Regions from separate parts of the Homo sapiens genome. Here region 1 is linked to region 2. Evidence: fine-mapped expression QTL. Tissue or cell type: whole blood. Region 2 holds a variant in brackets; the other region holds the start of a gene. All regions are shown on one strand. Distances are from middle to middle.

Region 1 (2,667 bases), 79 kb before region 2:
GGCCCAGCCTTTCTGAGCACATTTGATTTAACTTCCAAGCACATGCAGAGCGGCCACCACCTGTATAGAAGCTGCGGGCTGAAACACTGCTTTGGAGCAGTCTAAAAAAAAAACTCTCTGACTCTCCCAGGTGGCAGTCCTCAATAAGACTTCTGAAGAAAGCTAACTTGAATTATTTAAAAGCCTGATTTACTTTAGTTTACATATTTTACAGTTCCTTCCCATTAGGATGCAAGCTCCCCCAAGGCAAGGCTTTAAATTTTTGTTGTCGTTGTTTAGACAGGGTCTCACTGTGTCAACCAGGCTGGAGTGCAGTGTTGCAATCACGGCTCACTGCAGCCTCGACCTCCTGGACTCAAGCGTTCCTCCTGCCTCAGCCTCCTGAGTAGCTGGGACCACATGCACGCATCACCAAGCCTGGCTAATTTTAAAAAAGAATTTTGTACAGACGGGGGTCTCACCATGTTGTCCAGGCTGGTACCAAATTCCCAGGCTCAAAGCAATCCTCCCGCTTCGGCCTCCCAAAGTACTAGGATTATAGGTGTGAGCTATCACTATCACGCCCAGCCTAAGGCAAGTTTTGTTTTGTTCATGGTTGTATTCCTTGCATTTGGAACTCAGAAGAGGCCTCGAAAACCTTGAAGATACAGTAACTATCAACACATCTCCCTGCTTCACGTCTTTCCCCGCTCATTCGTATGTATGAGCTATGATCTCTTACCCCATGGTGTCAGTATAGTGCATCTTACTAATTTCAGCTGCTTTTTAGCTTTCATTTATGTTTGTATTTCCGTCACATTTTACATTGCTAACCAAAGACCACTGCTAGCGGGAAAAACTGGGAAAGGAGACTTGAAGGCAGCAGACGCTGCAGCTGCTCGATAAAAATTGGCCGAATTTAACAGGAGGCTGGAGGAGCTAAAAAACGTTTTCACACAGAAGAGTTAGCACATCCAGACTGGTCTTTTTAGCACTTTCTTAGGGCTTGAGGATGAAACCCCACCACTGTCGGGCCGACTGTAGGGTAGAGAAGAGCCAATTAGTATTTGCGGCGCTCGGGAGCAGCGTCCATCCGGCGGGTGTAGGAAAATACTTCCGGCGTTCTGGTTTTTTATGTGCTGAGTCACAGCCGAAGGCTCGCCCCGGGTCTGAGGAGTAGGGTACCCAAACTATGACACGAATGGGAAAATTTAAAACTTTGGAATTAATTCTCTGCACTCGTTTCTCAGTTTTCTCATTAGGGGAATATTTTTCTTTGACACGCGGAGCACTACTCAGTGGTTTCCACAAAACACACTCGTACGTCATAAACGCGCCGGGGGCCCTTCTCCCGTCGTCCTCCGCGCCACTCTCTCCGCTTCTTCTCCCTCGCCCCGCCCACTTTGGGTTTCGAAATGTTCGCTGGCTGTTCCGAGAATCAGTCCGGGTCACGTTGGTGCCTCTCCTTTCCTGTTCTGATTGGTTGCTTACGTGAGCGTGACTACTTTCTTGCCTCATGATTGGCTGAAATCAGTAGCGTCATCGGCGGCCGGGAGGGCGGAGGGACGAGGGAAGTCGGCGAGAGGGAGACTGGGTTGGGGGAGGGGTTCAGGCCTGTTCCCCGCGGCTGCGGCAGCACCAGGGCCGGCCGCCACCGCCTCTAGAACGCGGAGGAGGTGGGTCCTGGGAAGCGGGATGTCCATCGCTCCAGCTTGGTGGTGAATGCTGAGGAGAGTCACTGTTGCTGCAGTCTGTGCCACCCGGAGGAAGTTGTGTGAGGCCGGGCGGGAGCTCGCGGCGCTCTGGGGAATCGAAACGCGGGGTCGGTGCGAAGACTCTGCTGCTGCCAGACCCTTTCCTATTCTGGCCATGCCTGGAAGGAACAAGGCGAAGTCTACCTGCAGCTGCCCTGACCTGCAGCCCAATGGACAGGATCTGGGCGAGAACAGCCGGGTTGCCCGTCTAGGAGCGGATGAATCTGAGGAAGAGGGACGGAGGGGGTCTCTCAGTAATGCTGGGGACCCTGAGATCGTCAAGTCTCCCAGCGACCCCAAGCAATACCGGTGAGGGAGGAGGCTTGCAATGGGGAGGCGAACAGTGTGCCGGCTTCTCTGTCGGTGCCGCCGTCACTTCTTGTCTCCATGTCTCCCAATGGAGCAACAGGGCACACTTTCCACCCCAAATGCTTCCTTGGGTGGAGGTGGCAAGCGTGATTAGAGGCTTCCCTGTGGTGTCAGCTGGGCAAGTGGGAGATCTTGGGTTGTAAGACGTCAGAATGGGAGAAGCTTTTCGAGTCATTTGAATACAGTCGCTAAAGCAAGAATGAAGGTTTCTTTGAGGAACGCAGCCTGAATGGTGAGGGAGTCTTGGTATTATGTTACCAGGAAAGGTTGACGGAGTTGGATACTTTAATTTGGAGGACAGGATATTTAAGGGGCATATTATCACTATCCAAAATATTTGAGGGACACTTAAGTGATAGGTGAAACTAGTGGACGAAAGTTACCAGAGGATGGTGTGGCTTCAGTAAAGTAACTTTGCATCATATTTGGCCTAAGTTGAAGTGACTTGTTTCCATGGGTAGTTCTCCATTACCAAAACGGTTGGGCGACCTCGTCCAGGAATATATTAGAGAGGGCTTAGGTCTCAGTTGGGTGAGTTGTAAGGTTTCTTCTAACCTTGAAATTC
Region 2 (2,500 bases):
AAAAACTTTTTTGGAAAAAATATTTTTCCTTGCAGATGATATGATTGTATTCTTAGAAAACCTCATATACCACTAAAATTAAAAAAAAAATTAGGTGTGATATGGCTGGTCAAAAGACTAGTATATCAGAATCAATGGCTTTTTCTCCCCCATAGTACCAGTAATCACTTAGAAATGGAAGCCAGGCACAGTGGGATGTGCCGGTGGTCCCAACTCCTCCGGAGTATGAGGCAGGAGAAATACTTGAGTTTGAGGATACTTAGCTATGATCGTGTCACTAGCCTGTGCGATATAGCGAGGCTCTGTCTCTTAAAAAAAGAAAGAAACAAATGGATGGAAACAATCTTACATTTATTTACAATATTGAGAAAAAAAAGCCAATAAAATGGCTAAGAATAAACAGGAAAAGTATAGGATCTATCTGAAGACAAACTACAAATCTTATTGAGAACACCCATGAAATGATAAAAAAGGAAGAATTGTTCCAAATTTGACAATTATTTAGAATTTTGGACCCTTAAGATTCTTTGAGGCTAGGAGGCTGAGGCAGGAGGATCACTTGAGGCCACGAGTTTGAGACCAGCCTGGCAACATAAGAAGACCTTGTCTGTACAAAAGCAAAAAAATTAGCCGGGCATGGTGGCCCCTGTCTGTAGTCCCAGCTACTCAGGAGGCTGAGGTGGGAGTATGGCTAGAGCCTAGGCATTCGAGGTTATAATGAATTACAGTCGATAGTACCACTGCACTCCAGCCTGGGTGACCAGTGATATCCTGTCTCCAGGTAACACCCAAACAAACAAACGAACAAATTGAGTTGTTAGTAATTTTCTTATGTCCCCCCACAATGCCTAGTTCCATGCTGGGTACCTGGTAAAAACCAAAGAGAAACATTTCCCTCCCTAATACCTAGTGGATTTCCATGCTTCTTAAAATGCTTCCTTCTTTTTCTTTTAGCTACTGTTTCAGCTCATTATTGACTACTTAGCTGAGTTCAATTCCACACCAGCTGTCTTTACAATGATAACTGAGCAGTTGAAGAAGACCTACTTTAACATCCTCATCAAGCCCGAGACTTTGGCCAAGTGGGTATAAATGAGATGAGCTTATATTTTGAGGACCTGAAAGTATTACTCTCCCTAGTGGGTGGGTGTGGGGGTTAAGGCTATAGTTGCAGTGCTAATTTTCATCCGTGTTTGAATCGTGCTCTAGTTTAGGAGACCCGTGCATAGCGTTACGGTATTTCTAAACCCAGCTTATGTAGCTAGCTGTGAATGGGACTGAAAGCAGCTTACTGTAGAGACTAAAAGTAAGGAAGGGTGTTTTCACCAATCATTATACCT[G/A]AATGTTAAAGAAGTGCTAGTTTTAGGCCGGGCATGGTAGCTTATATCTGTAATCCCAGCACTTTGAGAAGCTGAGGTGGGAGGATCACAAGCCTAGAAGTTCAAGACTAGCCTGGGCAATATAGCAAGACTTCATCTCTACAAAAAATTAAAAAATTAGCTGGGTGTGGTGGCACATGCCTGTAGTCCCAGCTACTTGGCAGACTGAGGTGGGAGGATTGCTTGAGCCCAGGAGGTTGAGGCTGCAGTGAACCATGATCATGCCACCGCACACCAACCTGCATGACAGAGATAGACCCTGTCTCATAGAAAAACAAACAAAAAACAAACCAGAAGAAGTATTTACTGGTGATTTTAGTATGTTGGTGATTAGTAGCTGAGTTAAATTGCTAAACATGTCACTTATCTAGCAATCTTAACTATCCAGAATTCAGCCAAGCTTCCAGAAGAGAGCAGAAAGGCAGCTACACAGTCTGTATGCTAATACTTAAACCCTCTGCTCACAGGCAACCCCCTTGGGCCTTCATTCAGAGCCTGTTCTTACTACTTTAGTCCAGGGCTAATTGTAGCCTGTAGGATACTTTTGCGTGAATCAGAAAAAAGTATCCTTCTGAGGTACCCTCTATTAGCAGGTAGAGCCTTTGTGGGAGGGAGAGAAAAGTCCTCTGAACAGACCTACCCCTTTGTGCACATGACTGGCTAGCCCCTACTTGACAGTTTTGCCCTGGGCATCTATAAATAGTGAACAGCGTAAAGGTTCTGCTTTTGACACAGCTGTAATGAACCCATCAGTTTCCAGAATTAGAAAGAAGGGGTTAGGAATCAGTCATGTAATAACTGATATTCTGATCACAGAAAGTTACAAAAACTAATAACTAGATATATGTTAGAAAGGACATGGACACAGGGAGGGAACATCACACACCAGGGCCTGTTGGGGGGTGGGGGTGCTGGGGGAGGGATAGTGTTAGGAGAAATACCTAATGTAAATGACGAATTGATGGGTGCAGCAAAACTAACATGGTACATGTATACCTATGTAACAAACCTGCACATTGTGCACATGTACCCTAGAATTTAAAGTATAATAATAAAAAAAGGAGAGTTATCTGCAACCATTGATACGGTGAATAGCCCTGCCAATAACTCATGAATACTAC

What was found. PIP is the estimated chance that this variant, and not a neighbour inherited with it, causes the effect.
Region 1: it holds the start of NRDC, and the variant in region 2 is fine-mapped to the expression of NRDC in whole blood (INTERVAL, PIP 0.97).

The regions. Positions count from the first base shown.
Region 1 is chr1:51,877,650-51,880,316 of GRCh38, reverse strand. NRDC (nardilysin convertase) reads left to right here and starts at 1,590. Exons shown (of 31, transcript NM_001101662.2): 1 at 1,590-2,042. The coding sequence starts at 1,702. RefSeq lists enhancers at 299-852, 1,243-1,422, 1,306-1,600 and a silencer at 1,503-1,552.
Region 2 is chr1:51,799,138-51,801,637 of GRCh38, reverse strand. It overlaps NRDC (nardilysin convertase), which reads left to right. Exons shown (of 31, transcript NM_001101662.2): 21 at 955-1,082. Among named protein-coding and RNA genes, the nearest start is that of MIR761, 36 kb to the left of the region's middle. The variant G/A (reference allele first, on the strand shown) is at 1,341.